Homo sapiens: one gene and its partners. The protein of the gene in region 3 purifies or fractionates together with the protein of the main gene of each other region. This does not show direct contact. Each region holds a gene or a part of one and is shown on either strand. Other genes may lie near its edges. The genes, in order: GDA, GRK6 and SPMIP4.

Evidence for each region.
Region 1: the proteins of SPMIP4 (region 3) and GDA purify together in Homo sapiens (affinity purification with mass spectrometry; 2 studies listed by BioGRID and IntAct, with this or other methods). This does not show direct contact.
Region 2: the proteins of SPMIP4 (region 3) and GRK6 purify together in Homo sapiens (affinity purification with mass spectrometry; 2 studies listed by BioGRID and IntAct, with this or other methods). This does not show direct contact.

What each region holds. Positions count from the first base shown.
Region 1 is NC_000009.12:72,144,472-72,153,115, reverse strand, and holds the start of GDA (guanine deaminase), read right to left. Parts: upstream 3,677-8,644; 5' UTR 3,557-3,676; coding exon 3,434-3,556; intron 1-3,433. UniProt on the Homo sapiens protein: Catalyzes the hydrolytic deamination of guanine, producing xanthine and ammonia.
Region 2 is NC_000005.10:177,436,283-177,443,861, reverse strand, and holds the end of GRK6 (G protein-coupled receptor kinase 6), read right to left. Parts: intron 7,470-7,579; coding exon 7,332-7,469; intron 5,974-7,331; exon of another isoform or gene 4,992-5,973; intron 3,949-4,991; exon of another isoform or gene 3,831-3,948; intron 3,163-3,830; coding exon 3,025-3,162; intron 2,944-3,024; coding exon 2,809-2,943; intron 2,618-2,808; coding exon of another isoform or gene 2,612-2,617; exon of another isoform or gene 2,509-2,611; intron 2,128-2,508; coding exon of another isoform or gene 2,126-2,127; coding exon 2,072-2,125; coding exon of another isoform or gene 2,035-2,071; 3' UTR 971-2,034; downstream 1-970.
Region 3 is NC_000007.14:25,134,835-25,142,697, forward strand, and holds part of SPMIP4 (sperm-associated microtubule inner protein 4), read right to left. Parts: coding exon 7,806-7,863; intron 7,499-7,805; coding exon 7,407-7,498; intron 1,960-7,406; coding exon 1,138-1,959; 3' UTR 1-1,137. UniProt on the Homo sapiens protein: Microtubule inner protein (MIP) part of the dynein-decorated doublet microtubules (DMTs) in flagellum axoneme. May serve to reinforce and thus stabilize the microtubule structure in the sperm flagella.

The DNA of each region.
Region 1 (8,644 bases), on a different chromosome or scaffold from region 3:
TAATGCCGCCTATCTACAACTATCTGATCTTTGACAAACCTGAGAAAAACAAGCAATGGGGAAAGGATTCCCTATTTAATAAATGGTGCTAGGAAAACTGGCTAGCCATATGTAGAAAGCTGAAACTGGATCCCTTCCTTACACCTTATGCAAAAATTAATTCAAGATGGATTAAAGACTTAAACGTTAGACCTAAAACCATAAAAACCCTAGAAGAAAACCTAGGCATTACCATTCAGGACATAGGCATGGGCAAGGACTTCATGTCTAAAACACCAAAAGCCATGGCAACAAAAGCCAAAATTGACAAATGGGATCTAATTAAACTAAAGAGCTTCTGCACAGCAAAAGAAACTACCATCAGAGTGAACAGGCAACCTACAAAATGGGAGAAAATTTTCACAACCTACTCATCTGACAAAGGGCTAATATCAAGAATCCACAATGAACTCAAACAAATTTACAAGAAAAAAACAAACAACCCCATCAAAAAGTGGGCAAAGGATATGAACAGACACTTCTCAAAAGAAGACATTTATGTAGCCAAAAGACACATGAAAAAATGCTCATCATCACTGGCCATCAGAGAAATGCAAATCAAAACCACAATGAGATATCAGCTCACACCAGTTAGAATGGCAATCATTAGAGTCTATATTCTTAAAAGCTACATGCTACTTGAGCAGAAAGTATAACTCTGTATTTTGCTTTATACCAAAAAGTTGGCTAGATAATTTCTTTTAATTAACCTGCTTTTGAATGAGCTTTAATTTAATGTATTAAGAGCAGTTAGTCATTGGCATTCTCTGGGCCTAAACGAAGTTATACAAAATAAGGAATAAAGTTTAAAAGCGAGACCAGAAGGACAGAGTAAGCTTTGTGCCCTCTCGCTGAGATTCTACCCCAGATCTAAACTTGCAATGGAGAAATAAGCTCCTGATACTTCACACAGCTTGTCCCATCACAGAAACTATGTGTTACAGTTATTCAAAATGTAATCCACCCGCTGCTATAATCCACCCGCTACCTGCGTCTGAATCTCCTGGGATGCTTGTTGGAATGCCACTTTCTGGGGCCTACCCCAGGTCTATAGATTCAGAGTCTCTGAGGATGATGCCCAGAAATCAGCATATTATCAAGCACCCCTAGATATTTCTGATTCATTGCAAGGTTTGAGCTCCTAAAAATTTAGGAGTAAAAATTTACAGATCATTGGCCGGCGCGGTGGCTCACGCCTGTAATCCCAGCACTTTGGGAGGCCGAGGCAGGGGGATCACGAGGTCAGGAGATCAAGACCATCCTGTTAACACATTGAAACCCCAACTCTACTTAAAATACAAAAAAATCAGTGGGGCGTGGTGGCGCCTGTAGTCCCAGCTACTCGGGAGGCTGAGGCAGGAGAATGGCATGAACCCGGGAGGCAGAGCTTGCAGTGAGCCAAGATCAAGCCACTACACTCCAGCCTGGGTGACAGAGCGAGACTCCATCTCAAAAAAAAACAAACAAAAAAAAACCAAAAAAAAAATTACAGATCATAATAATTCAACATATTTCTGTATTCCAAAGGCGTATTATTTTCTTTTTTGAACCTTGAAATGTTTAAATAAATAATATATTTATCCCAGCAACTCTAAAAGTAAGATACTCTCCATTTTGAAATGGGGGATGTCAAGTTTTGAAATATGTATGGCATGCTCTCTCTTTAAACACAGCCAGGTATCAACTGCCTTGCACCTAGGAGGAGAGGAGAGCAACAGTTAGCAATCCACTGGTTCAGGAGCTCTGTACCATACATTCCAGCCACTGACTAACTCACCTTTGTATTCAATTCCTAAGTCATTTTGTCTTGTGGGGGAAGGGCATGTTTTCTAAATTTATAACTTCAGTATGATTTTTAGTGAGGAATAGACTCCCTGACTCAACTACTAATTGTGTGTTTGGGAAACTCTTTTATTCTTCTTCTGTACAAGCACCAGAAAAGGTATTTTTATTACTTCCTTTTCTTATTCCTCTCCACTGGTAAAACCAGTTGCCTGTTACCCTACCAATTACAATTCTGGATATGGGAAATTAATTTTTAAAAAAGAAACCCAAGAGTTGAACAGCTTCTTGTGATTAAAATAACACCTCTAATCTTACACCAGTTTAGCAATCTCCGTTCCTTTGCTTCCTGGGACTTGCCCCAAACCTGAGTTCCCTGAAACTTGAGGACCAAGTCCCCAAGCATGGGTTCATCAGTCTCAGGGTTTACCGGAATCTCCCTGGGAGAGCTCTGAGAGTTTTATCACCTTGGAAACACAACAGCAGGCTCCCTGAACGTGCATAGAAAGAGTATTTTTTAAAGCACCATGAGAAAACAGTGTTTAGTTACCCCCAAATGTAAGAGTCACGATTCAAAACTGTCACCGACTCGGTAGCATCTTAGTCAAGAATAGTATCTTCAACTTGACAAATCACAAGTATGTGTACTTTTGCTAACCAAACCAGTAGTTGGAAAACAGCTCAAAAAATCCCATCTCCATATTTATTTTATCATTTTTTTGTTCTAAAAAATGGAATGGCTTCACTTATCAAACTTGCCAGGCCATGGCTGATATAGTCACTATATGTGTGTATGGAACAGTAAATAGTAGACATCAAGTTACCTGTGTCATTTGTAGAAATCCTGATTTTGGAAAAGGAAGTGTAAAAGATACATTCAAAGAAGACATTTTGAACCTTAAAATGGAACTGCTTGCTTTGATGCAAATGGCTATGGTGTGTGTGTGTGTGTGCGTGCGTGTGTGTGTGTGTGTGTACGCGTGTGTGTATAAGAGAGAGAGAGGAAGGAAAAGAGATGGATGAATTATTTCTTTCGGACCATCCCTTCTAGTATTACAAGTTGTGGAACCTTCATCGTTAGTATATTATCTCTGTTGAATGATAGGGTGAATGTAATCAGTTCTATTTATTCTATGTTCTGGACACGCTAAACAACATCAATCAAATGACCCCCTCCTCTTATTTCTTTCACAATAAATTCAACCACATTTATGGAGAGCCTCCTGTGCCAGGCACAGTGCTAGGTGTTGGAAACAAAGATGATTTAAGCAAGATTGAAGATTATTGCCGGTATCTTAGGATTGGAACGGGGGGCGGGGGAGCGGGGGGTGACATCCTTGCTCCCGGCTCTACCGCAGCCCGGACTGCTGTCGAGCCAGTTGTGGCGTTAGCACGCCACTGCTCCCGACTTCTGGGAACTCCCCAGCCAGCCCACGAACCTAGCGCCAGGGTTCTCTCTGCGTTGCCCAAGAGCCAAAGACTCAAGTTCAACTCCGGAGCCGCGGCGCTCACTGCGCACCGAGCGAACCCCGGGCTACGCGAAGCACCGCGCCAGGTTCCTTGCACCTATCCTCCCGCCCGTCGGAGTGCGCTCGACCCCGCGCCTGCTTACTTTGCCGCTGTCGCTCACGCCGAGGAGGTGATCCCGCAGCACCTCCATGGGGCAGGTCCAGGTGGAGTGGACGAACGTCCCTCGGAAGATGTGCGCCAGGGGCGGCATCTGAGCGGCACACATGTCAGCGGCGGAGCGCAGCGCGGGTCTGCTGGTCGAGGAGGGCGCACGCGGCGGAGACGCAGCGGGACTCTCTGCAGCTGCGGGCGGCTGCCGGGCGGACACAGGCTCCGGCCTTGTCCTGCCCCCGCTTACCCGGGCGGTTGCCGGTACCCTGCAGGCCGCGCCCAGGGGCTGGCTCCCTACCTCCTCAATGCCAATAGGATTTTTCTCCCGCGAGTTGGCTCCGCGCTCCCGTGGGGTGTGGTCTTTCTCTCCACCCTTGCGTTAGTTTTGGTTGTGTTAACTCTTTGAGTTATCAAGATCAACCACAGCTGAGGCTCAGAAGATCAGCTTCCTCCACCTTCTATGAGTTGTGTCAGCCTGGCTCCTCTGACCCTTCAACTCCTAGGATCACTTACTTCTTCAACCTGTAGCACTCAGGTCCTGTACTTGCATTAGTTCAGGCACAGGTGAAAGGTCAGCTGGGGCTGCCTACCTTATGACCAGTTTCATTTTTAGTTTATGTAGACTGCAGAATTAGTATTGGTCCTCACCTGGAAGGTTCTGGAAGCATGTCTTACCGAACATCTCTGGGGACCCCTAAACTGGGTGTCATTGTGGACGCCAAGGTTCCTCTCTTCACCTTGAGGCTAATGTTTTTGGTTCTTGTGTTTGTCCGCAAACAATTCCAATACCAATTTTTCTCGTGTAAAATGAATGAATCTCTTTTATTTACTTCCAGTTGTACAAAGGGAGAAAATTAAGTTCTCAAGTCAAATAGGCAGCAATGGTACCATGGGTGCTGAATTGGGAATCAAGAGACTGTGGACAAGACACGTGGGCCTCAGTGTGCTTATCATCCCCACTTATGAAAATGGAGCTTGGACTGGGTCATAACTAGGGTCAGCGTTCCCACCCTACACAATGACCACAGGGTCCTTCACTAAGTTCCTCCATGAAACCCAGCTGGCTTCCATTCAGGGCCCTCTAACGTGCTGTTCCTTCTGCCCCTAATCCCTCTTGTGGCGCTTTACTTGGCAGCTCTTCTCACCACTGATTTGTCTCAAATGTCAGGCTCTTCGGAGTCACCTTTCCTGACCACCAAGTGGCACCGGACTCCCAGCAGTTTCTACTCCACTAATCCATCTTGTTTCTGCCATTGCATTTATTGTGTCCATTCTTCTTTATTTTGTGTTTTTTAGTTTACTCCTGTTTCCCTCTCACCAATACACACACACACACACACACACACACACACACACACACACACATACACACACCAATAACAGAAGCACCACAGGAGCAGGGAATGTGTCTTATGCCTAGAACAATGCCGGTGTTCCATACATGTTTATTGAATAAATGAATGGATGGTTTTTCTGTGAGCAGAGCCATAACCTGAGACAAATAACTATTTTGACAACTACATAAAGGGTGAGGGTTTCATTGCAGTGTGTGAGCAGTTTTTCTCTGAATTGCTGCTTTTAAGACACAGGGCTGGCTTATAGAAATGATTCGTTCCCTTCTCAGTTCCTTCAGCTCCCCCATAACCAATGTCTAAGGTGACCAACAAATCCTGGTTTACCAGGCACTTTCCTGGTTTTAGCACTGAAAGGCCGTTCAGGAAAACCGTCAGAACCATGCACACAGATGGTTGATCACCCTACCAGGGATCCAGAATTAGGAATCTCTGCAGCTGAGGTCATTACACTTGTCCCTGCTCCTTGTCACTTTCTCCTGATTCTGCCAACTGCACTCCCTCCTGGCAGTACCGACAGCCAGCACACTGAAAACATTCCCTTGTATACACAAAAACCTCAGACAGAAAGGTGAAGAAAATGGCTTTTGAGATAGGATTCAATCAGATGTTTCCAACAGATGTATTACTTTCCTAAAACAGATACGGTTAATAATTTTTTTGATGATTAGGTTTTAATGAAAACCTAAATGTCAAAAAAAAAAAATAGAGACTAGTTTTATGAACTAGAATATATCTACTTGATAGAACATTATACAGTTATTAAAAACAACAGGAGAAATATATAGCCACAATGTTAAGCTTTCAAAAATGGCTTCTGGCTGGGCACGATGGCTCACGCCTGTAATCCCAACACTTTGGGAGGCCGAGGCGGGTGGATCACGAGGTCGAGATTGAGACTATCCTGGCCAACATGGTGAAACCCCATCTCTACTAAAAATACAAAAATTAGCTGGGTGTGGTGATGCGTGCCTGTAGTCCCAGCTACTCAGGAGGGTGAGGCAGGAAAATTGCTTGAACCCCGGAGGCGGAGGTTGCAGTGAGCTGAGATCACGCCACTGCATTCCAGCCTGGTGACAGACCAAGACTCGGTCTCAAAAAAACAAAACAAAACAAACAAACAAAAAACAGCTTCTATGCTACGATGAAAACCATGAAAAGCTATAAGCATATTTGCTGGAATTGAAAAGGTACATCAAACAATGTGTGTTGTTCTGTTGAGATAATGGAATTGCTAGGTAGAGAATTTTGTTTTGATTTTTTTAATGTTGTTACTATGTGGTTTATAGGATGAATAATCATTATGATGCTTTTAAAGAAATTAATCGTCTTAAGCAGAAGGATTGGCCATGAACCTCCAGGTGACATGGCATTAGTGCTCCTCAGGTAAATTTTAGCTCTTTTGAGCAATGCATAGTTCCACTTCCATTCCCAGTCAAGTTGTAGGTACCTGGGCCCAGGATCCAGAAGCCCTGGGTGCTATACTGCCAGGCAGCATGGCTCAGCCACATGCCAGAAGTCTTGGCTTCCCAGCCAGGCATGGTGGCTCATGACTGTAATCCCAGCACTTTGGGAGGCTGAGGAGGGCGGATCACTTGAGGTGAGGAGTTCGAGACCAGCCTAGTCAACATGGTGAAACCCCGTCTCTACCAAAAATATAAAAAATTATCCAAGTGTGGTGGCGCACACCTGTAGTCCCAGCTACTAGGGAGGCTGAAGCAGGAGAATCGCTTGAACCCGGGAGGCAGAGATTGCAGTGAGCCAGGATTGAACCACTGCACTCCAGCGTGGGCAACAGGGTGAGACTCCACTCTCGGAGGTGGCAACTCCTTTAAATTGCTGGTCCTCCTGCAATTTTGACTCCCATTCTGGTATCCCCAGGGAAATATTCTCCTGGCTACAGAGGTTTGGAGGAAAGAGGGAGTACAGAGCTTTCATATTCACCCTCAAAATACAGCCCAAGCATCATTAGTGCTCCACCCCCACATATCACTTCCTTCAGAAAAAAAGAGCCCCGCCTTGGCATGGAATATTCCCTGGCTGCTTCTTCAGGCTTGGCTACCTCCACTCTCCCATATGCTATGAATCCGCTTTGCTCACACTCTTCTCTCTGCCTGTGGTGCCCTTTTACCACCTTACACCATGTCTGCCTCATTGTCCCACCCACTCCCCCAACCCCCAACCCCCCCTCACCTTTATCCAGGATATCTTTACATTTCTGCTCTAGAGTGTTAAGTGTTCCTCCCCTGAGTTTGTGGGTGTGCTGTAATTGTTCCATTACTCATCTATACCCCAAAGAAGATGTGTTTTTCTGAAGGACCATGTCCTCTTTCTTTCTGTGTATCCATCCCCTTAACACAGTCCCTGGTCACTAGGAGGTGCTCAATAGATTTATATGAATATTGAATTGCAGGAGATGGCTCTAGTGCCTATATTTTAGTCATAAAAATTAAGAGGCTATAGTGGGTGTCTGCTAATGGTGAACAATTCATTGGGACTAGAACTTAAGGATGAGTTTTATTTCATTTATTTAGTTTTCCAACATTTTATGAGAATGTTCAGACATAGAGAAAAATTTTAAAGCTTCATTTCTTACAATCTCAATTTTCTCTATTTCAGATGGAGCCAAGTAGCCCCCAAATTCCCCAACTACTGGGGTGGGATCATCGTGTTCTAAACCTCCAATTGCCTGAGGCCAAAACCTAGACCATAGCATGATTAGCTTTGACATTTTGCTCATCTCATGAATGTAATTATACCTGTAGCTTAGTCAGTCAGTCCTTTTTGCTAGATAGAACCTGACTGTTTGAAAAGGCTTTCTCCTCTATTATCTAATTTTGAGCCTCTCAACAACCCTATAAAATAGGAAGAGGATGTATTTTAAACATTCCACAGATGGGGAAACTGGGGTTCAGGGAGGTTGGCTTGCCTGTGCAGTTAATATAGGATGGACTTGGATCTTGAGTCCAGTTGTTCTCATACATTGTCTCATCACAGTAAACTCCCAGGAATTGTTCATTCAGTTTTGCCATGACTCACTTGGCCACTGCACTGTGGGCTGTCATCTACAACTTTCACATTGTACATGGTTTTCCAACAGTTGCTGGTGACACTCAGATCTAGCCTGCAGTAAAACTAAAGGGAATAATGGGCCTTGAGAAAAACAGGAATCCAATCAGCGTAGGTCAGTAGAATGGGCTATCGAAAATAACTCAGGTTTTCATGAGGTACAGAGAGTGCAGGGAAGCAGTTTAAATGAGAGGCCACTTTTCCTCTCTTATCTAGGAGAGAAGTTGTCATTGTACAGTGAAATAAATGCCTGCCTATTTTATTTATTCTTTTCATGTAGCTAAATCTATCAGTTTCCATGGTGCCCTGTGCTCACCATGGAAACTCTGACAAGCTTGTTATGCTTTAGAGAAAAAAAAAAAAAAGATACACCAAAAATTTGAGATGGGATAAATGCGTTCCTTTTAAAACTGTGTGTTCTTCTGAGTGGGAGGCCTTAATGGATAGCAAATCATAATGATCTCCATTTTCCAGTTCTTAGGTGAGAACCCAGGTTTGCCTATCCATAGAGGCAGCACCCTCGGCCCCCCAAAACTACTTTATCTGTATAGTGTAGTTATGCCAGTGAGTATCCCACCTCTGTATTTACTGACAATAGAGAGATGGCTCAATTCATATTTTGTCCATTTTTATGAGAATATAGTGCTAGTCCCTATAAATATTCTTTAACAGTTTGTTCACTTAACAAATATTTATTGGACATCTATATTATGATAGGCACCATGCTAAGCACTGTGGGTATGACTGTATGAAACAGATATTGTCTTACCTATATGGAACTA
Region 2 (7,579 bases), on a different chromosome or scaffold from region 3:
CTCAAGGGGCTGGCTGGCTGCTTTGGTGGATTCTCACAGCTGCCCAGAAAGGTGATGGGTCTTACACCTACCTTTCCATATCAGGGAAGCGCCTGTGCAGGGCCAACTTGAAAAGTGGCCAGGCTGGGGCTTGAACCTGGAACTGTCAGCTACAAAGCTCACATGGCTCCTGCAGCACTGGGTGCCCAGTCCAGAGGCCAGGAACAAGCTTGATGGGGCTTACGGGGCATTCTCAGGGAGCTGGGGACACTGGGAGTCTATAGAGCAGTGATGGGGTTGCCAGATCTGGGACAGACTGGTAGGCAACAAGCTCTCAGCCCCAGAGCCCAGGCAGGAAGCTCCCCTTGAGTGCCTCCCAGTCCCCCTTCCTCCCAGGTGAATGTCCACTTCGAGGCCGGCTCAACCACCGTCTTCAGAGAACTCTCCCACACTGGCCACAGCCTATCTGCCAGCGTCACCCACTGTCTAGGTCTTTGCCCATAATGTGTCAAGGGCAAAACAGAGGGGTGGATATGATGCACGTGCCTCAGCCCGGGGCCCGTACATGGCTGGCGTCCAGGTAACGCAGGCCTGGGGCAGACATTCCTTACACAGCTCCCACCCTACTCTTACGTCCACATTTAGGCAGCCAGGCCACCTTAGCCTTGGAGGGGAGGACACCAACGGGGCCCGCCTTACCAGCAGTCAGAAACAGACCCACATCCCAGTGGGTACCCAAGGCTTCTTTCCTTAGGCCCCATCCCATTTAGGAAGTTGGGAAACCCACTGGGTGAGCCCAAAGGCTACCAAAGCCTGGCTGTCTGGAGAGGCTAGTTCAGAGTCAGCCCTGGGGGCTCCTGGGCCTCGGAAGGGCACACCCTGCTTCCCTCCAGGCCCACCTCCAATCCCTTCCCGCTTCCAGCTGGGCCAGGGGAGCAGGAAGACCCCTGGAGCACCGGAAGCAAGAAAGAGGCAGGCAGGGGCGGCTAGCCAGGTTTGTGCTCGGACTATTCACACAGAGACATGTGGCAGCTTACGTTGGACAAAACGAGTAATAAAAATTGGCTTTAAATATGGAAAAAACAGGGCCCTGTAATCCCATGCTACCCTAACACTGGGACCAGGATGGCCATCACAGTCTGGGAAGGGCCAGGGCTGGGACCTGGGGCACAGGCACAGCCTCGCCCTATCCCCTTCACCCACACAGGTACACACGCGCGCGCACGCACCCCACAGGCGCACACAGGAAGGGGCGGATTATTGCTGGGCACATGTGTCTATTGTTATGAGGGGAGTCCGGAATGTTTGAGGGTTGACCAGGGATGCCCCACCCCCTCCTAGGGGCTGGGCTTGGGCGTTTCTGAAAGAGGTGTCTGCAGGACAGAGCCCAGTATCAGGGACCAGGCTGTGGGAGCTGGAAGGCAGAGGCAGACCTATCTGGGCCGGCCGGGGCAGTGGGCTGATGGGTATCACAGGCAGCCCAATCTCTGGCCACTTTGGCACAGGCCTAGGGCATACAGAGGCCCCAGACCCAGCGCTGACAAGCACTGAGAAGGGACAGCTTTGGGCCCCAGAGGGTAGCAGCCTGAGCCCAGGGCAGCAGGGGGAGGCACGAGTCTTACTCAGAGGCCGGGGTGGCCAGCACAGTGCTGAAGGCTCAGGGGTGTGACCACCCTCAGCCATCCAAGCTGGGCCAGAGGAGCCTTGAGTTTGGCAGTGGCTCCTCTGCCAGCTCCCGCTCTCCCAGCCAGGGCTGGCTGCCCCCAGGAGCCAAGGCGGGGGCGCCAGGTCTGCGGCGGGAATTAAGAATGCTCTGGTCGCTATATACATTCGTACAAATACATAAATACAGAAAGCCCCGAGCTCCACGGAGAAGAGCTGAAGGGACGCACCTTTGTCCCAGGGATGGCCCAGGCCCTGCCAAACTCAGCCAGGCCAGGGGCTGAGGGACGGAGGACACTGGGGACAGCTCCGTCTGTGTTCCCCAGGCCACGACTTGAGTGGACAATGGGGAAGATCACTGTGCAAAACTGTAAACGGCGCTCGGAGTAGCTGCTACCGCCAACTGCTGGTGGGGGCCTCGGGCTGGGGGCTAGAGGCGGGTGGGGAGCTCTTCCTCGCTGTCGCTGCAGTTTCCACAGCAATCCTGGAGGGACGGGGAAGACACGGAGGGAGGGAGAGAGGCAGAGCAGGTGCCATTAACCACGAGGGACGTCACATGGGGCCGACCCTGCCAGGGCAGGCCAGGAGCTGCCTGAGGGGTGCACTCTGGGGAGGGGCCTCTCCACAAGGAGCCTGGAGCAGCAGCTCAGGCCACACGTGGGTGGGCGTCATTGCAGAGGCTGCCGGCAACAGACTGAAGTAAGGGGGCTGGGTAGATCCCACGGTCTGCCAGGGCAAGGCCTCTGCCCAGCCCTCTCCCCTGGGGCTGGCAGAGACAGGGCACGGGGAGACAAGCGAAGCAAAGCTGGCAGCTCGAAGGGGCCAGGGTGCAGGGGATCAAAGCAGTGGGCAGGGGGAGTGGGGCGGGCACCAGACTTCTTTCTCCCACATCTTGCCTTTGCCATGGAAGGGCTGCCCGTGGCTCCCCGAGGCCAGGCAGCAAGGCCAACCCACGGGGAGCCCACACTGCTCACCTCTGGAAAGAGAAAAGAGGCCATGAGCCCAGCCAGGGGTGGGGGACAGGCGGGAATGAGGCCAGAGACCCTGGGCACCACAACAGGACTGGAGGACGCCCACTCCCAGCGCATGCGGGCACCGGCTCTGCCTCCCACCCACCGTCCCCTGGAGCCAGGTTAGGGGCCCAGGTAGGCCGCTGCTGGGGCTTACTTGGCGACTGAAGAGTCTCTGCAGCAGTCCCTTTTTAGGAGGTGCAGGTGGCTGGCCCTTCCAGTCCAGGTCTGGGGGAACTGAGCCATCCAGCCCAAAGACATTCAGCTCTTGGAAGCACTCGGTCTCCACCATCTGCTGAGGAGCAGGCGGCTGTGACAGCTGTCCCCAGGGCAGCCTCCTGGAGCCCACCCCACCAGCAGGGCAGGCCCCCACCTCGTTCTGCCAGGGGATGGGCACACTGCCTGTGGCAAACTTCTGGTAGAAGTCCTGGTCGGTAGGCTCCAGCTCCACGCCCTTGACCGTAGAGAACTGTTCAATGTCCAGAACATCCTTGCAGTAAATGGCCTGGGGCTGGTGGGACAGAGGCAACGGTCAGATAGGAAACACACACACGCACACGCGAAGGCAGCTCAGCCCTGATTCTGCCTCGGGTCTTGGCCTAGTGCTGCCTGACACCAGCAGCTCTCTGATTTGGAGAAACCAGGTGCCCCACGCACTTCCTAAGTGGGGCAGGCCCTTCTCTCCGAAGCCTGGTTTTCCCCTCTGTGAACTGCGTACGTTATTCCTCACTGCTCAATGACTGTGAGGCTGTGTAAAGGCCAATGCCAGGCACCTCCTTCGCCTGCCCACAGCTTCCTGGGTATGCAGTTGGGGCGGGGAGTACAGGCTGAATCTCAGCCGGCCCCTCCGCTGGGCACCACCACGCAGAGCCTGGAGCTGGTGACTCCCTGGCTCCCCGCCCTGCGATGACCTGGGACTTGCCGTCTTCTCTCCCAGCCAATCAGAGGACTGGCACGGTCTCCCACTGCTCCACCTCCCCAGACCCACACTGGGAGCCCACCTCAGCTCCAGGCGGCCACCTTCTTTTTTTATCTTAACATTGTTTTCTAAATCCTTCAATTAAGATGTCAATTAAAATCATTGTCATGTAAAATGGTACAGCTGCTTTGGAAAACAGTCTGGCAGTTCCCCAAAAGCTTAAACATCATTACCATATGACCTAGTAATTCTACTCCTAGGTATAGACCAAGAGAAATGGCGGCATCTGCACACACAAAAACTTGTACAGGAATGTTCACAGCAGCAATAACAGCCAAAAAGTGGGAACAATCTTAATGTCTACCAACTGACGAACAGGTAAGGAAAATGTGGTCTATCCATGCAATGGAATATTATTCAGCCTTAAAAAGGTATGAAGCACTGATCTATGCTACAACATGGATGAACCTTGAAGATACTATGCTAAGTGAAAGAAGCCAGGCACAGAGGATCACATACTATGTGATGCCATAGCTATGACATGTCCAGAGTAGGCAAACAGAGAGAGACACAGAGTAGACTGGTGATTGCTAGGAGCAGCGGGAGGGAAGCATGGGGAATGGCTGCTAAGGGTATGGGTTTTTTTTTTTTTTGCAGAGTGGGGCAGGTAATGAACACACTCAAGAATTTATCGTGGTGCTGACTGCATAATTAAAAAGCCAATGAATTGCACTTTTTTTTTTTTTTTTTGAGATGGGAGTTTTGCTCTTGTTGCCCAGCCTGGAGTGCAATGGTGTGATCTCAGCTCACTGCAACCTCCGCCTCCTAGGTTCAAGCGATTCTCCTGCCTCAGCCTCCCAAGTAGGTGAGATTACCGGCATGCGCCACCACGTCCAGCTAATTTTTGTATTTTTAGTAGAGACGGGGGTTTCACCTTGTTGGCCAGGCTGGTCTTGAACTCCTGACCTCAGGTGATCCACTCACCTTGGCCTCCCAAAGTGCTGGGATTACAGGCATGAGCCACCACGCCCAGCCGAATTGTACACTTTAAATGGGTGAATTGTATGGTATATAAATCATATAAATTAAACTCAATAGAGCTGTTAAAAAAATATCATCAAGCTTGCTTTTTCATCTACTGCTTCCACAAAGTTAAACTCCAGGGCACTGATTTTATCTCCGACTTTGAATGGAAGATCCAGAGGCAGTGTAGTTATTTCAAGGTTAAATGAGATGATGTACACAGGAAACAGAACAGACTGAGTGGCAGTGCCAGCCTCAGGGGCGAGCTGATGAAAGTCAGGCTCTCTTAGTTCAAGTAAGTGCCTCTGACAGGGCCCACCTTTGCTTTGGAAAACAGTCTGGCAGTTCCCCAAAAGGTTAAACATAGTTACCATATGACCTGGTAATTCTACTTCTAGGTATAGACCAAGAGGTATGGAGGCCAAGGCGAGCAGATTACTTGAGGTCAGGAGTTCGAGACCAGCCTGGCCAGCGGTTCCAGTGAGGCCCATGTGAGGCAGTCACTCAGGGCAGTAGCCCCCTCACTGGCCTCCCCACTTCCACTCACACCCACTATGGCCCACTCCCCACACCTCACATTCCTGCCCAGGGTCCCCCAGCGGTCCCATCTTGCTGAGAACCTGCCGGCACTCCTCTTTGCCTGCACGGGCTCACTCAGCCACACAGGTGTCCTCGCGGCTGCTCCACCTCACAGGGCTGGCCCCTGCCTCAGGACTGCAATACCCGGCTGTTTCTTCTGCCTGGAATGCTCACACCCCAAACCTTGGCATGGCTCTCCGCTTCACATATTTTACATTTCTGCACCAGCATCACCTCCCCAGAGACCACGGTGTCTAAAAGCGCTCCCCCCACCATCATTCTCTGCCATCTTCGTAGCTTGCTTTAGTTTTCTTTTTTTTTTGAGATGAAGTTTCACTCTTGTTGCCCAGGCTGGAGTGCAATGCGCGATCTCAACTCACCGCAACCTCCTCCTCTTGGGTTCAAGCGATTCTCCTGCCTCAGTCTGCCGAGTAGCTGGGATTACAGGCATGCGCCACCATGCCCAGCTAATTTTGTATTTTTAGTAGAGATGGGGTTTCTCCATGTTGGTCAGGCTGGTCTTCGAACTCCCAACCTCAGGTGATCCGCCTGCCTCAGCCTCCCAAAGTGCTGGGATTACAGCGTGAGCCACCGCACCCAGCCGCTTGCTTTAGTTTTCTTTGTCACACTTAACATTACCTGGAATTCCTTCTGGCTTACGGGTTTGTTTGGGTGTGTCTCCCACTAGAATGTAAGGGCAGGACTGGCTCCAGTGGGCCTCATTATCTCCAGGGTCTGGCATAAATGGGCACTCAGCTATTTGCTGAATCAATAAACGTGTGTGTCATTGACAGCTATCAACCTGGCCTGCCCTGCCCATCCTTCGGGCCTCTCCAGTGTTCCTGGTGAACCGTTAATTACAGGACCAGTCCTCATAGACATGGGAAGGGGAAAGCACATGACCTCATCTTAGCCAATCAGAACCTTCCCTATGACTGTCACACAGAGAAGCCTAATTCAGGGGGAGGGAAAGAGTCAACAGGTTGAAGGCCAGGCAAGAGCTGGAGAATCGTGGCACACAGCAGGAAACCCTGGAGCTGGCCCTACTTTGGGACTTTCTGGCCAAATGAACCAATACACTCCACGGTGAGCTTAAGTGAGTTTAGGTTGGTTTTCTGCCACCCGGACTCTGACAACTAGAGGATACTCTTGCCTGCTGGGTGCCTGGCCCACTGAGATGCTCAGTTAACAGGTGAGACTCCATAAGGAAAAGTGACCACCCACAGAAGGATGGCCAGCCCAACAGCCCCTCCCACTGCTGGCAATTGCATTGTAGTTTTCCTCTGGGGAACTGAGCTCCCCCATTGGTGCAGGTTCGGGTGGGTGTATGATCTGGGTGTGGCCAGTGAGGGGCCTCTGAGCAATGAGAGGCAATGGGCATCAGCTTTGGGACTTCTTTTCCCCCATGAGGATTTCTTTTGAAATTATTGGGCAAGGGCAGGCGCGATGGCTCACTCCTGTAATCCCAGCACTTTGGGAGGCCGAGGCAAGAGGATCACCTGAGGTCAGGATTTCAAGACCAGCCTGGCCAACATGGTGAAACCTCATCTCTACTAAAAATACAAAAATTAGCCGGGCATGGTGGTGGGCGCCTGTAATCCCAGCTACTCAGGAGGCTGAGGCAGGAGAATCGCTTGAACCTGGGAGGCAGAGGTTGCAGGGAGCCAAGATCTCACCACTGCACTCCAGCCTCGGGGACAGAGCAAGACCCTGTCTCCAAAAAGAAAAGAAAAGGAAGAAAGGAAAGAAAGGAAAAAAGAAGGGAAAAAAGAACGAAGGAAGGAAGGAGAGGAGAGGAGAAGAGAAAAGAGAAGAGAAGCTCTCTGTCTACTGTGGTGGCTGAGCTGCTGGGGCCCACTGCTGCCGCACCATGGGGAGAGCTACCCCAATATGAAGACTACACACTCAACGGTACAGTGAGGGGAAGGAGAGAGAGTTCCTAGGACATTGTCAGAGGCTCCAAGCCCCATCCAGGCATGCCACAAGCCAGACCCATCCTGGGGCTTTTCCTTTTTGTGAATTATCTTTATTTCTGTGGCTAAGCCACTAGATTGTTTTTTCTGCCACTTGCACTGGAAGCATCCTGGCTGATACTACAAGAGCCCCTGAGCCCCAGCCCTGGCTGGGCCCCGCCCTCAGCAGGAGTGGGCTGCACTCACGTCAGGCTTGAACGGCGGCTCCAGCATGCCAGCTCCCAGCCGCTTGAAGTTCAGCTTCTTAAAGAGGGGGTGCTCCTTCACCTCGCGGGCACTGCCCCCACGACACCCCAGGCGTTCGGCAGGGTCCTTGCAGAGGAGCTGTGGCAGGGGTGAGTCGGCCAGGCAGGCCAGGCAGGTGAGTGGGTGGGAGGGAGGGAAAGGTGCATCCACCCCAGCCCTGGCTGGCCAGGCTTCTGTGAGCTGCCGTA
Region 3 (7,863 bases):
AACCCAGTGACCAAGGCATGCAACTGACATTGTTGCTCCGATTTCCCCAGTATTATTTCACCATGTAAACTTTTACTTCCTGTCATAATGTAACTAGTGCTGTACAGAATGCAGTTGGAAAAAAATTCTCTAACTTTAGCCCAGAATAGTTTTAAGGAGGTTACAACCAAATGACATGTTGGTCATAAAATTAAAATAAATATTCACAAAATACTTAAAGAAATTCCTCTTGAACTTCCACGATAGACTATGTTTAAAATCTACCTCTTGGCACATTAAATGAATTGACTTGCATATGGGAGTTAGCCAAACTCTTAGAGAACACACTCCAGAAATGAAGATTTGGGGCTCTGTAATAACTGATACCAAGCCATCCTTTCTTGCTATAATTAGAACTCACCAGTTGCTAATTAAGGCCATTGCTAGATCTTCAGTAAAATAATTTTATCTGCATAAAAGAAACAGTTATGTTTCTCAATCAGAAGGTTAAGGGTAAGCAAACAATTCAATTTGTAATGTGTACATGCAGAGAGTTTTGGGTTTCATTTTTTTCGCTGACTTATTTTCTTTACATGTTTACATAAAGGAACAGAGTCCACATACTTTTAAGACAATATAGTTTTTAGAGGTGTCCATCCCTCAATTAACTAGGTGTTTGGGTTTTGTCTTTTCTACCTAATGCTACTATGTACAAAAATTTACATAAAGGGACAGTGTTCTCATTTTTATTAAGATACTATAATTTGTATAGTCATTCATTAATTATTGATCATTTGAGTTCTTTCCAGCTTTTCAATTTTTTTTGGTGAAACAATGATGTAAACTTTGTTGTACACATTGCTTTTTGTGATTTTGGAAAATTTCCTTGTATAATCTGAAGATGAGAGATTAAAGACTATAAATTTTTCTAGTTCTAATATTTTATTGCCAAATTGTTAAACTTTTCAAGAAGTCATAACATCACCTTTTCTGGGTTCCTCCAACCAGATACTAACTTAAATTCCTGAAAATGTAAACCTCACTAACAAGGTCCTTGTGGTTTAATCTAGAAAACAGAATCCAGCAATACGAAGGAAATTCTGTTATATTTTTTAGCTTCTTGCAAGAGGCTGGGTTTTGAAGGGAAGAATGAGTATCTCAATTATAGAAATAATAGGAATTATGGCCATAGAATTGGTGCTTCATCCCCGAATGCTCATTATCCCTGAGGTCTTTATGGTCTTCTAGAATTGATTTATGGAAACGCTTTTGTGCACCAGTTTTTGAAAAAGAGTTCTTAAGCTCCAGCAGGTTGGTCTGAGGTTTGGTCACTCCAGCTCTAGGAATCCAACCAAGAACAGGTCTTGTTTCTTCATTGTTTTCCATATTCAAGAACAACTCTTCTTCTGGCTTACTTAAAAAATGTTCTAAAGTGAAAGCTTCCGTGTCTTGTTTATTTTGTAAAACACTAGGTTTACTAAGGCTAACAGGGTCTGGACACATATTATACTGATCACGTAGGGGAGATTTAAGATTTTCATAGTGAATCCAGTGGTCTGGTTTACAGTAAGGTGTGGGTTGGGTTTTTAGTGACTGCTGTCTCCAGTATAAATCTTCTGTCTTTTTAGTATCTGTGATTTTTGGAAATGGCTTTATGTCATAAATGCTAGTTAGGTCTTTTGTTGGGTAACAAGATGGGAGTTCATAGGTAGACAGCAAGCTCTGTTCTTCTATGATCTTCTCTTCAATATCCTGGTTTTTATGGGTCACACCGGCTGGTATGTTATCACTAAGTGCCACCATTTCTTTAGAACTGGGTACAAAGGTATGAAAATTACACAAAACTCTAGGAGTACAATCTGGACAGGAACGTGGTCTTTGCTGGACTATAGCCTCCAGAGAACGTCGGTTCTGAATTAATCGGGCAATTCGTCCTTCCAACGGTCTGGGAGGTTTGAAGACAGGGTGGAATTTTTCTTGCTGTAGTTGTGGGATAAAAAGGAGAAAAAAATTGATCAGGGATATTGCCACAAATGGTAGGTCAAAAGTCATACCCATTTTCATTGTCTGAGTACACGAGATGGGCATAGGAGTGTACATTGCAATGCTCTTTGATACTAATTTAAAGACATTGAAATTTGGGTCCAAATACATTTTCCTCCTTTACTGGTTTTAGAGAGTATGAAAGGGGCATGTTTTTTATTTGGCTATACAGAACTCTTTCTGTGTGGGAACTCTGCTTTTAAACTTCAAAGATATAAAGCAATCACTGGAATAAAACTTCTGTCCATCACTAACAGATGGCATTAGCCGCGTGTGCAGTTATTTAATCTCAGCCAAAGTCTCCTTTATTAGGCCTTAGCAAGTGCCCTTAAACCTTGGCTGAGTCAGAATCATCTGCAGAGCTGGCAGGAGATTCCTGACTCCTAAGACCCTCCAAGACTGTGGGTCAGAAGGCCTGTAGTGGGCCCCAGGAAGCTGAATTTTCTTTTTTTTTTTTTTTTTTATTTTTTCTTTTTTCTTTCCTTTCTCTTTGGTTTTCATTCTCTTATGGTTTTGGCAGGTTTTGACAGTATTAGAGTAATGCGAACCTCATGAAACAAGTTGCGGAGTGTATTAATTTGCTAGCGCTGCCATAATGAGGTACCACAAACTGGGTGGCTTCAACAATAGAAATTTATTGTCTCATAGTTCTGGAAGTTCAGCCTCAGTGTATTGGCAGGGTTGGTTTCTTCTGAGGGTTGTGAAGAAAAATCTGATTCCTGCCTCTTCCCAAGATTCTGGGTGGTTTAATGGAAATCTTTAGTGTCCCTTGGCTTGTAGAGGCATGACCCCACTGTCTGCTTTCATGTTCACAAGACATTCTCTCTGCAGCATGTCTACCTCTAAATTTTCTTTTTATAAGAACACCAGTTAGATTGGATTAAATTCACCCTCATGACCTCATTTTAACTTGATTACCTTGGAAATGACCCTATTTCCAAATAAGGTCACATTCTGAGGTACTTGGGATTATGCTACAACTTCAACAAAAGAGATTACCCATAATATGGGGTAATTTAACCTTCCTTACATTCTAAAAATCTTGTGTAAGATTGGTGTTATTTCTCCTTGAAGATTAGAAAAGATTTACCAGTAAAACCACTTGGGTCTAGACTTTCCATTTTAGGAGGGTTTTTGATAAATTCAATTTATTATTATGTATAGGACTATTCAGATTTTCTTTATCTTCTCATGCCAATTTTGGGAGGACCACTTTTTAAGGACACTTGTCAATTTTAAGTTATGATCTTTTTAATGCCTGGAGAATATGTAATGATAATCTTTTAAAAAAATTCATTATAACTGTGATTTATGTGTGTATTCTTTTGTTCTTAATCAATCTAACTAGAAGTTTGTCAATTTTGTTGATCTATTCCAGGGATCAGAAAACTTTTTTCTGTAAAAGGCCAAGTAGTAATAAGCTCATAATTTAGTGTAAGCATTGTGGACCATGTGATCATCATTGTAACAATGCAACTCTGCCATTGTTGAATAAAATCAACCATAAACAATCCATAAACAAATGAATATTGCTGAGTTCTTTTATTTTCTTTTTGTGAAGATAGAGTCTTGTTATGTTGCCCAGGCTGGTCTCTAACTACTAGGCTCAAGCAATCCTCCTGCCTTTGCCTCCCAAAAATGACAGGATTACAGGCCTGAGCCACTGTGCCCAGCAACTGTTGCCATGTTCTAATAAAATTTATTTACAAAACCAAAAATAACCACAATGAGTTAATACTCCACAGTCACCGTATAATCAAAAAGAGAGAAATAAATAACTGTTGGCATTTATGTTGAGTAATAAAAACCCTCATACATTTCTGGTTGGAATGTAAAGAGTTACAGCCACTTTGAAAAATGGTTTTGAAGTTTCCTAAAATCATATAACTACTCTCCCAAAACAAAAACATATGTCCATACACAGATTTGCATGTAAATATATGGAAGCTGAATTTTCAACGAGCATTTCAGGTGATGGTGAGGCTGGAGATTTGCTATGCTTTGAGAAACACTGGTCTGAGGTGTCATGTCTGTGCTTCTTTTTAAGTTGTTTTATAAATATGAACTCAATTATGTCTGGTAACTGCGAAAGTAGTGAGTGTATTTAAAGTGCTATTAATAGATACACGCTGGGTGGTGGGAAGAGGATGCAGCTGACTGGGAGGGGGTATGAGGAGGAAACTTTCTGGAATGATAGTATTCTGTATCTTGATAGGGGTTTGGGTTACAAAGGTGTGTTTGTTAAAACTCGATGAATGTACACTTAAGATTTGTGCAATTGCATTGAACTTTATTTCATCTTAAAAGAAAAAAAAACCGCAAACAAATATTGAACTCTGGTTGATAATATACATGCTGCATGTTTAGGAGTGAAGTATACTAATGTCTGCAATTTACTCTAAAATGCATACAAATAATATATTTTTATTATTTCTGGATGATGGATGGTTAGAGGGATGGAAAGATGGATAGATTATGTGATAAAACAAGCATAGCAAAATGTTAGTGGTAGAATCTAGGTGGTGAGTATATGGGTGTTAATTATACATTTTTTTTTTTACTTTTCTGTATGTTTCAAACATTTTATAATAATATGTTAAAGTAAAAAAACTACCAAAGAATGTATGTATAATGATGATGGAATTGACAGCAGAGATAATACAAATGAGAGTAGTGAGAAAATAATCACTGTAGCTTGGACTTAAAAAAATGGACTTAGGAACATCCTTTTGAAAGCTAATCTGTTCATAGTCAGAGAAATTTCCATATTGAGGTAACAAATTTGTTACAGCCTTTAGCTAATCAAGTTTGAGTAAATACTGTGATGAAAAAACTTCAGCTCTTTGACGTGCTTTGTTAAATTTGTCATAAAAAAGGACAGGACTTATCATATTGTACTTTGACCATATATATTTCTGTATGCAAGAAGCAGTTTTTAGTGCTTTTATTTTACACTACTACAATAAAATATTTCATACACATTTTTATTACCATTAAAACATGTTTTCCCAGTCTGTTCTTTATGGTTTAATCAGAAACCAGCAAGAGTCACTAAAACTTTCTTTTAAACTTCCAATTATCTTAGGTATATTTTATCTCGTTATTCATAAATATTTAAGAGTTGATTTGCTTGCACAATGATTTTGCATATAACATATTTGGCAAACATCCTGTATATAATGGAATATGTATTTTGTACATACCATACAGGGTCGAATCTCTGGAAATCTGGACAGTTGTTGAACACACCTGACAACATATGTTCATATAATATTTTCTATACTTAGAGAATGCTCATTGCAAATTCAACAAAAAAATTATTAAAAACCCTTCAGTGAATGATAAAACACAGCCTATAAACCTGCTCCTGGTGTTATGATTTTATATCACCTTAGGAAATGCTGAAGCAAATGTAAAATCAGTATGTTCAGCTCAGTTTTTATTTTATTTATTAATTTATTTTGAGATGGAGTCTCACTCTGTTGCCCAGGCTGGAGTGCAGTGGCACAACCTTTGCTCACAGCAACCTCTGCTTCCCAGATTCAAGCGATTCTCCCACCTTAGCCTCCTGAGTAGCTAGGACTACAGGCATGTGCCACCATGCCCGGTTAATTTTTGTATTTTTAGTAGAGACAGGGTTTCACCATGTTGGCCAGGCTGGTCTCCAACTCCTGACCTCAGGTGGTCCACCCGCCTCAGTCTCCCAAAGTGCTGGGATTATAGGCAAGAGCCACCACGCCCGGCCCTCAGCTCAGTTTTTTTGTTTTCTTTTCTCCCCCCGCCCAGCATGATCTTGGCTTGCTGCAACCTCCGCCCCATCCCCCTGGCTGAAGCGATTCTCCTGCCTCAGCCTCCAGAGTAGCTGGGATTACAGGCGCCCACCACCACGCCCGGCTAATTTTTGTATTTTTAGTAGAGACGGGTCTCACCATGTTGGCCAGGCTGGTCTCGAACTCCTGACCTCAGGCGATCCACCCGCCTCAGCCTCCCAAAGTGCTAGGATTACAGGCATGAGCCACCGAGCCTGACCCAGCTCAGTTTTTAAAGTGTTCAAACTGAAATAATCTTACAGATGTTTTTCCTTGTGTTTTTCACAATTTATATACCTTTAAAATGTTAATTTTGTTTTCAAAATTTGTAGTCGTCGAGAATAAAATTTAGGCCTCAAATAAAACAACACATATGCAAACTATTAGGTCATTTCATCTCATTTACATAATTAAACCAACAGATTATACTTTTGCTCATTAAAGGGCTTGATTATTTCTTCCAGGCCATTTCGCATAATCAATTTAAAAGTCTCTACTGATATCTGCAGAGAACGTATTGGCTTTTCATTGTAATTCAGCCAGCTCTCAATTATTATGAATATCAGGAGGAAGCCTTTATTTCTTCAAAAGCAATGGTAATGTACAAGATATATAAATATGCAAAGGGCCAGGCGCAGTAGCTCACGCCTGTAATCCCAGCACTTTGGGAGGCCGAGGCGGGCGAATCACGAGGTCAGGAGATCGAGACCATCCTGGTCAACATGGTGAAACCCCGTCTCTACTACAAATACAAAAATTAGCTGGGTGTGGTGGTGCGTGCCTGTAATCCCAGCTATTCTGGAGGCTGAGGCATGAGAATCGCTTGAACCAAGGAGGCGGAGGTTGCAGTGAGCTGAGATCGTGCCACCGTACTCCAGCCTGGCAACAGAGTGAGACTCTGTCTCAAGGAAAAAAAAAAAAAAAAAAAAAAGCAAAGATCTACGGAATTTACTAGGAATCTCATTAAATCACTAGTTAAATTCTTTTGTAAACTGCTTCTTTTGTAAGTTATTTCAGCAACAGTAGCATAGTAGAAAATCTGTTAAAAAAAAAAAACCACTCTGAAGAAGAAAAGAAATCTCTTTTTTTTGAGACGTAGTCTCGCTCTGTCGTCTAGGCTGGAGCGCAGTGGCACGATCTCAGCTCATTGCAACCTCTGCCTCCTGGGTTCGAGCGATTCTTCTGCCTCAGCCTCCTGAGCAGCTGGGAGTAGAGGCGAGTGCCACCACGCCTGGCTAATTTGTGTATTTTTAGTAGAGACAGAGTTTCACCATATTGGCCAGGCTGGTCTCGAACTCCTGACCTCGTGATCTGTCCGCCTCGGCCTCCCAGAGTGCTGGGATTACAGGTGTGAGGCACTGCGCCTGGCCCAAGAAAAGAAATCTTGCTTGTTTTCCCAAACAGCAGACAAAGTATTCAAACCAGTTCAAATCAGCTCAGAATTCACTTCTAAAATAAGTAAAAATTTCCATTTGCTAACTTGGTTGCTAAAACCCAGGACACAAAAAGTGGCAAAGCAAGAAGGAGCCCAGCACTCTCCCCCAAAATAACTGAGAGTTGACTGCAATTACTTACCGGCTCTGGGTCAAATCCTATCTTTCGTGTTAACTCTGCTACCATCTTTTCATGGTAATCATCCAGTTCAAGGGGGTCCATGGGCCCCAGACCTTAATGGAAACATCACCTTATTATTTTGTTAGGGTAAACGAAGAACGACAGTTATATTACCCTTTATAGGAAAACTTACCCATTCCTTTTGTAATATAATTAGAACCAATAAAATGAAAACCAACCCTACCTCCCAGCTACCTATGAAGAGAAATTTACCACCCACCTTAATTCTTATTTAAATACTTTAGGATTTAAATACTTTGAGAAAAAGGCAAAAACATGAGAAGTTGAAAGCTTGTCATAGCATTTGTTAAATATTCCAATTTTGTTCTAATTTTTACTTGTATGAAAGTGAACTCATACCTGTAAAATCATGAGTGTACGAAGTGAGCCAGTGGGACCTCTCAAGATTTCTTTGTAT